Linked DNA regions of Homo sapiens: regions 1 and 2 are each reported to be linked to region 3. Evidence: microRNA targets listed by miRTarBase, many of them from high-throughput screens and not tested one by one. Region 3 holds a microRNA gene; each other region holds the end of a gene's coding sequence.
Evidence for each region. Region 3 holds the annotated microRNA hsa-miR-4473 (CUAGUGCUCUCCGUUACAAGUA, at 1,473-1,494, shown strand). A microRNA usually pairs through its seed, bases 2 to 8, with sites in the 3' UTR of a target mRNA and lowers its output. Matches are read on the target gene's strand: a 7mer-m8 pairs with bases 2 to 8, a 7mer-A1 pairs with bases 2 to 7 and ends in A, and an 8mer does both.

Region 1 (3,297 bases), not on the chromosome of region 3:
GCTGGGATTATAGGCATGTGCCACCATGCCAATTTTTTTTTTTTTTTTTTTGAGATGGAGTCCTGCTCTGTTGCCTAGGCTGGGGTGCAGTGGTGCGATCTTGGCTCACTGCAACCTCCGCCCCCTGGGTTCAAGCAATTCTCTGCCTCAGCCTCCCAAGTAGCTGGGATTACAGTGCACCGCCACCATGCCCGGCCAATTTTTTTGTATTTTTAGTAGAGACGGGGTCTCACCATCTTGGCCAGGCTGGTCTTGAACTCCTGACCTCGTGATCCACCTGCCTCGGCCTCCCAAAGTGCTGGGATTACAGGCGTAAGCCACCGCGCCAGGCCAATTTTTGTACTTTTAGTAGACACAGGGTTTCACCATATTGGCCAGGCTGGTCTAAAACTCCTGGCCTCAAGTGATCTGCCTGCCTCAGCCTCCCAATAGTGCTGGGATTACAGGTGTGAGCCACCATGCCCAGCCTATAAAAATTATTGAGATATTTTACTCCATTTTCATACTAAATCTTCGAAGTCTGGTGTGCATTTCACACTCATAGCATGTCTCAGTTTGGACCAGCCATGTTTGAGGCAGCCGCATATGGCTGGCCACCATATCTGACAGGAGAATTCCAGAACAGTGGGCATCAGTGGGCTCTGGGTGAGCACCTGCTGCATCAAGGATGAGTGGGTGAGTTCTGCTGAGGAGACACGAGGTTGGAGAGGCTGCATCCCTGAGGCCTTGGCACTCGCTGTCCCTCTCCTTGGGAAACTCCACCCACTTCTTGTGTCTCCTCAGAGAGCCCTCCCAGACCACCCCTATCTAAAGTAATTGGCGGGGCACGGTGGCTCACACATGTAATCCTAGCACTTTGGGAGGCCAAGACAGGTGGATCACCTGAGGTCAGGAGTTCGAGACCAGCCTGGGCAACACAGTGAAACCCTGTCTCTACCAAAAATACAAAAAAATCAGCCGGGCGTGGTGGCAGGCGCCTGTAATCCCAGCTACTCGGGAGGCTGAGGCAGGAGAATCACTTGAAACCGGGAGGTGGAGGTTGCAGTGAGTCGAGATCGCGCCATTGCACTCCAGCATGGGCAACAAGAGCGAAACTCCATCTCAAAAAAATTAAAAAATAAAACTAAAAATACAAAAATTAGTCAGGCGTGTTGGTGGGCACCTATAATCCCAGCTACCTGGGAGGCTGAGGCAGGAGAATAGCTTGAATCTTGGAAGTGGAGGTTACAGTGAGCCGAAATCACACCATTGCTCTCCAGCGTGGGCGACAGAGAGAGACTCCATCTCAAAAAAATAAACAAATAAATAAAAATAAAAAAATCAAGTCACTTCTTAGGCCCTCTCGGCCACCTCCCTTGTCTTCATCTGCCTGGCACTTTCCCTCCCAAGTGTGTTTCTCTTTTGTTACTGCTACCACGTGGCAGTCTCCACCTCATGATGAAAGGCAAACTGGACCCGGCACGGTGGCTCATGCCTGTAATCCCAGAACTTTGAGAGGCTGAGGCAGGAGGATTGCTTCAGCCCAGGAGTTTGAAACCAGGCCAGGCAACATAGTGAGACCCTGTCTAATGAAAAGTTAAAAAAAATTAGCTGGGTGTGGTGGCGTGCACCTGTGGTCCCAGCTGCTCAGGAGGCTGAGGTGGGAGGCTCACTTGAGCCCAAGAGGTAGATGCTGCAGTGAGCAGTGGTCACACCACTGCACTCCAGCCTGGGCCATAAAGTGAGACCCTGTCTCAAAAAAACAAAAGGCAAGAAGCAAACTGGGCTGGACACAGTGGCTCACACCAGTAGTCCCAGCACTATGGGAGGCTGCAGGGGGAGAATCGCTTGAGCCCAGGAATTTGAGACCAGCCTGGGAAACAAAGCAAAATCCATCTCACAAAAGCAAACTGTGTCTTTCATCTCAAGCAGAGTAAAACCCAAAGCCCTCACCGTGGCCCACAAGGCTCCCTGGCCTCCCACACTGTCCCCCTCGCTTATCTGCCCCAGCCACGCCCACCTCCTGGCTGCCCTCGAGCCTCCTGGCTGCTGCCATCTCCCAGGCTATGCCCCTGTGGCTTCCTCTGCCCCAATTATTCTTCCTCCAAAGGATCTGGGCTGCTCCCTCTCTCAATTTAGGTCTTTGGTGAATGTCACGTCAGGGAGGCCTTTTCTGGTCACCCTCTTTAACCCACAACTCATTCCCGAACTTTCTCTGTGCAGAAAAGAGTTAACCTGGCAGGCTCCACAACAGACTGCTGTCCTTAGACAGGCCTGGGTGCACAGTTGGTCCTTGGCTGGGAACTTGGGTGTTGGGGGGGGGGTCTTATCACTTCCTGATAGAGTGGCTCGCTGCATCTATCTAGGCTGTTCGTGCAGGCCTAGAGTGGCTTGCTGCATCTATCTAGGCTGTTCGTGCAGGCACAGGCCTTCTTTCTGGGAGCCTGGCATTTTGGTATATGTTGGAGAGAAGGTGCTCTTGTGGCCGCCCCCATGAAACCAAGGGCGCTGAGGCTAGGATCAGAGTGTCCCTGGCTGACATTTCACACGTCACCATGATCCACTGCTGGAGGAATTAGGTGTGGCCTCTGGAAGTGCATGCCTGGTTTCCCGAGTTCACTCCATGCACCTTTCCTTTTGGCTGACTTGGCTCCATACCCTTTGATGAGAGTAAATCAGAGCTGTGAGTGCAATTGCATACTGAGTCCCCAGTCCCAGAGAACCATCAAACCTGGGGTGCTCTCTGATTCCTGAGTCCTAAAGAACCATCAAACCTGGGGGTGGTCTCGGGGACCCCCGGCACACTGTCCTTCTCAACTCTTTTCTCCTCCTGAACACTCACCACCATTGGGCATCCCATAATATTTTACCTGTTTACCTTGTCATCGTCTTGCCCACACCCCAGGTTCCACCCCAACCCTGCTCTGTGCAGTATTCCCAGCTCCACCCATAGAGACCCACAGAAGATGCTGGGGGAATATTTCCTGAATGACACCCATAACAGCTTTATTTTCAAAGGCGGGATCCCTCCCCGGGCTTGTGATGGGACGGCGCTGTGGGCCCGAGCAGCAGAGCCGTGCAGGACAGGCATGGGCAGGGGTGGGGCAGCTGGCCCGGGAGGCCGGCAGGTCCCAGAAGACACCTCACACGGGTTCCATCTGCAGCTCCTCCCCGTCCACAGCCTCAATCTGGTGGAAGGCAGCGTGGGAGCCGATGACCACCAGGGTGGCTCCTGCAGGAAAGCCGGCAGCTCAGGGCCACACTCCTGCACCTGGCTCCCACCATCCACCCCAGCTGCTCAGACCCTGTACTCACCCA
Region 2 (3,352 bases), not on the chromosome of region 3:
ATTTGAAACACTTAAAAATCACAGTTATTAAAACAATAAAGGATTGGTACAAAAAGAGAAAAGCAGATCAACAGAAGAAAATACAGTGTAGAAACATACCCAAATAATATGGAAATGTACTATGTAAGTTCCATTTCAAATTAGTAAGGAAAGGATTTATTATTTAATAAATAGCTTTGTGAAAACTAGGTAGTCATCTGGAAAAAAGATAGTGAAGCCCTAAATTCAGGAGAGATCAATGATTTAAATGTAAAAAAAACAAATAACAGAAATGCTTGATCTTACTTTTAATATTCAAACTCTAATGATGTATTATTTCCCTTTGAGAAAAGGTACAGAAAATGTATGCATAGTTATGTTACAATTTGCATTACTATATATGGTACTGATATGCCTATGTACATATATGGTTATTTCTAGAGAGATATACAAGAATCTGGTACTGATATGTGTCTCTTTCAAGTGAACTAAAAGATGGGTGTTGGGATAGAAGAGGAATTTACATTTTACTGTTTGAACCAGGATGATGTATTAGTTAATTAAAATAATAAATTAAAACATATGCTAGAAAACCAAAACCCTTGTACTTGATAATATATTAGTACTAGGGCATAAAAGATTATTTGGTAACCCAAATTCTGCCAGTAGAATATATTATAGGGGTCTAAAATGTATGTGAAAACAATTTAAAAAGAGAACTGATTGTGTTACTGCATCTTGTGAGATACGTCAATTAAAAGGCAGTTTAATCAATTAAACTCTCTCATCTTGTGAGATACATCAATTGAAGGGCAATCTCAAGCAAAATAATATTCAAGTCCTTAGAAAATTTTACCCTCGAGTACTGGTAAAAGCTACTACTTTACTATAAAGTAGTTAAGGAATGATCTCCTTCTAATCATTTTTATTCTAGATATATTGCATATTTTATGGCCTGAATTTGTATATGCACCAAAATTCAACAAATAAAGAACAGCTTTGATTTAAAAAGTACCTCAAGGCAATAAAAAAAATCATTTTAATTTTTGATACATATTAAAACATCTTAGTCAGTTCCTCCTGACAGCATTAACACAGACAAATACACAAGACTTCAAACATGCTTTAAAATGACATTCAGCAAAGTACTTAAAATTTAATAAATAGCAAATCACACACAGATACATTTTTCATAATCATTAAACTACTAAAACAGACAGTTAAAGAATAAATAAACCGCAACTGACAGTAAAAAAAATATGTTGGGTTTTGCAATTCACACTACTTAAAAAGGGGGGATGATCTGAATGATTTCTTAATTTTCTTTTGAGAGTGTAGCATGATCCCCCCCAGGAATAAAATATATTGAAAAAATCACTCTTACAACAATGTATTTTTTAAATACAACAAATAAATATGAAACCAGCAAAGCAATTTCAAGTTGTAATAAAAATGTCCCCCGCCCCCAGCCAAAAGCTATGGAAATATATAGTTGCTGTGGTAGCAAATAATAGTATTTAAAGTGATAGTGCTTGTGCACTAAGCTCATCTGAGACCTTGATATAATTTTAGTGCAAATCCCTAGGGTCCAATGCAAGCGCAACCCTGTATTAGGGAAAGACATTACCAGGTGGAACTTATCTTGTACAATTTTTGTACATGTTTTATAAAGTTCAAGATTTAATGCATAGTAGAATATCTTCATCCACTTAATTCTGTTGCTAAATAGAGATGAAAAAAGAAATGACTTGGGATTTTACCATTTGGTTTGTACCATGTTAGAGTATTAAAGTCAACATTAGAAAATCTTTATAAAAGAGTTTTGTTTTTGCCAGTAATTTATCGAACTCTGCCTAAATTTCACATGATTGTATGTTAAACGTAAGAGAAAAATTTTTAGACAGTTTGTTTCCCACTGACAAGTTCATATGATAATGAAATCCAATAATAGACAAATGTCAAACAAATGAAAACGCAGGTGAGTATAAGGGTTTTTTTTTTGTACATTAACAACCTTAACATCTAGTATATTAAGTTACAAGATGTGTTGGCAAAAGCATAAACGTTTCAATTAAAATAAGGTATTATTTTGTAAAAACAAACCATTTAACATAGGATAGATAAAAATGACAATCAAATGAGTTTCAGCAGCCACATTTCTACAGTGAACTACAGTATCAGGATGAAAACAATCAGAAACAAATGAAAGGACATTATTGAACAATATGAATATGTGATGCATTTTTAGCTGCTAAAATAGTAAACTCTAAGTTCATAGAGTTACAAGTTGTCGAATTTAACCATGCAGGCTAACATATAATAATAAGAAATCACCCTGCATTTTTTCTTTTTAAACTAAAACTAGTTTAACTGTAAAGTTACAAAATAATAAATGGATATTGCTCCAACTTGTATACAATCTCCCTTATGTGATTCGTACCTAACAAAGTAACAAAGCCTCATCATCACTCGTTTCGTTTTTCAGTGTTACTTCTAAGCAAGTGTCTGGTATCTGGGCAGTGTGGACAATACCACAGCGCTCACAGGGGCCATCTCGATTACTTGGCCTTACTCCAGGATTTGTTGCATTATATGGTTGTCTAAGCCCTTGTCCTTGATCTGAGGCAAGATCAAGAAGAGGTCTGGAGCAGTCATTCACATCAAAGTCTGAAGATCCATCAGAAATTGGAATTAGCATTTCAACATCATCATCATCTTCTCTTCCACTTACCCCATTATCAAGTTGTCTCAAAGGACTCTGGTTCTGACTTAGGGAACTTGATCGTCCTAATGTAAAACGTACCCAGCGTAGCCCCTGAGTCATACGACTGAGTGCACTTGTAAGCTGGTGACGTGCTGGACTCACACTTGGGGGTTCCACACTTGTCACATCCCTTCCATTATCTGCATGACCACCTCGGGTACTCTGAGTTGAGGAACTTGCACATGCTCCTACTGTCGCTTCTACTGCCGTTGTGGGAGGGACTTTTTGAGGCAAAGGAGCTGCAACCCCACCAGATGCTCCTGCCATATCTCTTCTCTCATTTTCTGTGTCTGTATCATCAGACTCCACGGAAAACAAACTTCTGTGAGTATGATTTCTCTCAGGTTCTCTACTGGTACTCTGACTAGGGACAACCTCATCTCCATCTGCTGAGACCAAAGCCAATGACCCAGAATGACGTGATCTTGCAAAATTAAAAATACGGTTCCAAATGTTGCTTGATCTGCCTGCCATAGGAAGCCTGACTGAAGTAAATCCAAGCTGAGATCGTACCGCTAGCCTCAGATTTTCCAAAACAGAAGCCTACAAAAATAAGAAAAGATCTTAAGATAGTTAACAACAAGGTACTAAGATAAAAAAAAAAAAAAA
Region 3 (3,000 bases):
ATCTTAGAACACTTTTCTTTCTGTCCCTTGGGCTGCCCACAGATGTCTCTAGTTTAAATGCTGGCAAAGGCTAGGAGGGCATAGTAGCAGATTTGCTGTGCCGGGTTTGTACTGTTCTGGGTAGAAAGCCAGTCAGGGTCAGGACATGGTGCTGACACTGATCCCCAGTGGTCCACAGATCTCCCTACTCTCTATAGCTAATCTCGAAATTTTGGTAGAAGATCAGATTAGGACAGTAGCATATAAAATACTGGACATTGGGAAAATTTGTTCCAGTATTTGGTAAAGGCTTTATAGTCATAATTTATGAAATGGAGATGAGAGTTGAATGTGTTTGTTCCAATAACTCAAGTATTTATTTTTCCTTCTTTGCTTCTTACCTTTCCTCTTAACTTGAAGCTTATTCTTAATGCAGATGTTACTTGGACCTTTTTTGTGTGTGTTTGACTTTTGTTTCCAATCACCCTGAAATGCTGTTGGGTTGTGATTATTCAATCAAAATTGTCAAATTTTGCAACTTTGCCATTTTATATTCTAACACATTGCAATTCTTCTAGTATAGAGGTTTTCAAATCATGGGTTGTGATTCACTAGTGAGCTGTGAAATAAATTTAACGTATCACTAGCATTAAAAAAATCAGAAAACTATAATTAGTATGGGTAAGTAATGGCTTATGAAAATTTTATTTCAGAGAAGGTGTGTGTGTTTCTTATAGTGGTCAAAATTTTGAAAGGCACCTTTTTAGAATGTTTGCCGATTTATGAGAAGACCAAATGGCGTTCATAAAGCATCATTGAAAGCTCTTTCTACATGAAACACAGATGGTCTTCCTCTTTAGGTAATTTTGTTTATTCTCCTTTTGTCTGCCTCTTGCTCCCTCCCATTTATATATGATTTATAAAGTATGTCTTCCTTTTAATAAAATTCTTGTTCAATTTGATGTATTTATTCAAAGTATACCTTGAAAAGTCTTCTGGAATGAAGAGTTAGAATTGGAAAACTTTACAGTAGGTAGTAAATTTTCAAAATGGTATATGACATATTAGAGCCACAAATCCAATGATTACAATAGTAGTTTTTGTAATGTACTCTGCATAGCATTGCTGAGAAAGCCTGTAAAGACTTTCAGGTACTATTTGTGTATAAAACCCAACAGCCGTACTTTCCTTATTAGTCTTCTGGTACTAGTAATGGCTTTATTGTTGTTGCTATTGGTTCAATACTTGAAAAGTAGGTAGCGTAACAGAAGAGAATTAACAAAAGTGATGTCATGTAAACCATGAACCCAAAGGCCTTTCTATGAGCAAAGGAAGGTGAGAGAGAATTGAAATTCCATTTATCCAGTAGAAAAGACAGGCTTTGTTTGGACTGTCTCCTACCTGTCCTACCTGGCATCCCTCCTGCCAGCAAGACAAAAGGAACAGGGGACACTTGTAATGGAGAACACTAAGCTATGGACTGCTATGGACTGCTAGTGCTCTCCGTTACAAGTATCCCCTGTTACCTTGGCTAGTAATTGACTTGGTGGCTTGGGGCAGGCCCAACTTCAGGGGTGACTGTGCACATTGTCCTAGTTGTGTGTCTGCCTCTGAGTAAGTGTGATTAGATGACCTGATCTCTCTAAGGTCCTTTCCAGCTTTATTAGTTGAATATGAGCCAGATTCGTATTCATTTGTGGGACATGGGGTGATGGGTGATTTTAGACATAATGGGCAGAGATCATGGACTTTGGAAACAGAAAAAAGACACAAATAAATCAGAAGAATTTGAAGTATAAGGAAGGCTGGGGAAAATGATTATTTGTCTAGTATGTCTATAAAGAAAACATCTCGCCTCAGTATAGGTCTTATAGTTTAAAAAGATGAACATTTTAAAGAACCTTTTCTAGAATCAAATTCTACTCAGGTTTTATATAAAAATGTCAGTAGTATTAAGATGGGTTAGGAAGCTTAGATTATTAATTGATATGGTCCTTTTTGGTAGGATTTTCATATCCTTTGTATGTGAGAAGAGAGAAAGAAGTTGGACATCCATGGTTTGTATGTCTGGCTGGTGTTTGAGGGATCGATCACTTATTTGTTGATAAGTGAAAGGTAGGTAGATAGGTAATTAGAATTCTGCTGTCTGGTGTCAGACAGGCTGTGTCTTAAATTTCAGTGCCACTAGGGATCTTGGGCAAATAATTTAACTTTCTCTGTTTCTTAGTTTCCTCTTTTATAAAATGGAGATCATAATAGTATCTTCTTTGTAGGATTATTGTTGAAAATTTAATAAATCAATGTGGGTGAAACGTTAACACACTAATAAAAAAAATGTAAGTTAGCTATTGCTATGTATGACTTGACTTCTGGGTACCTATATAACCTGTAGCTTTGAAAGAGATTTTTTCTCTTTCAAACTCAAGATTTTTTCTCTTGCAGAACTCTGGTGTCCTTTTTCAAGGTTGTGGGTTTATATGCTGCAATATTTGGTACTCTAAGCCACTTTGTTTTGAGTTTTGTCTTTTGTCACTTTGCTCTGAATTTTGTCGTCACAAGGTGTATGGTCTTGATGTTGATATGGTTCTGCTACATGATCAATGTAAAAATACAAGATAAAAAGTCTTAAGTTTTAAGCTGAAAGATAAGCCAAAGTGTCTCAGATCTTTCAGCTTTTTAATTAAATGAGATAAAGGACAAGAACATACCAAGTACTGCACTGGGTAGGCACTTGGTAGATTTTTGTTTTTTCATTTTTGTTTTCTGCTGTTGCTGTTAAAATATCCTAAGAAATGATTTATCTTTGAGTTACTGTTAATATAACTGAAAGAATAATTTTTAAATACATTTTGTGATTATTGAAATGTTTCTCATAAAGAGATGTAATACTGTCACATGAAAGTTTGTCAACAAATTTCCCCTACAGAAGAATTTGGTAGGGGCTTGGATAAGGTAGACAGGCAGAAGGACTGTGTTATAGTGGGTGAGCATTTAGCAAATACAGAAAGCATGATAGGGGAA

Region 1: the mRNA of RABAC1 is a reported target of hsa-miR-4473. The part of its 3' UTR that is shown has no 7-base or 8-base seed match.
Region 2: the mRNA of LRP12 is a reported target of hsa-miR-4473. Seed matches in the 3' UTR shown: 7mer-A1 at 1,548-1,554 and 7mer-m8 at 1,506-1,512.

What each region holds. Positions count from the first base shown.
Region 1 is chr19:41,953,724-41,957,020 of GRCh38, forward strand. It overlaps RABAC1 (Rab acceptor 1), which reads right to left. Exons shown (of 5, transcript NM_006423.3): 4 at 3,295-3,297; 5 at 2,960-3,211. The coding sequence ends at 3,123. Among named protein-coding and RNA genes, the nearest start is that of RABAC1, 3.9 kb to the right of the region's middle.
Region 2 is chr8:104,488,254-104,491,605 of GRCh38, forward strand. It overlaps LRP12 (LDL receptor related protein 12), which reads right to left. Exons shown (of 7, transcript NM_013437.5): 7 at 983-3,286. The coding sequence ends at 2,420. Among named protein-coding and RNA genes, the nearest start is that of MIR548A3, 5.5 kb to the left of the region's middle.
Region 3 is chr9:20,409,655-20,412,654 of GRCh38, reverse strand. MIR4473 (microRNA 4473) reads left to right here and starts at 1,417; the gene lies at 1,417-1,507. All of the region lies in intron 5 of MLLT3 (MLLT3 super elongation complex subunit), which reads left to right.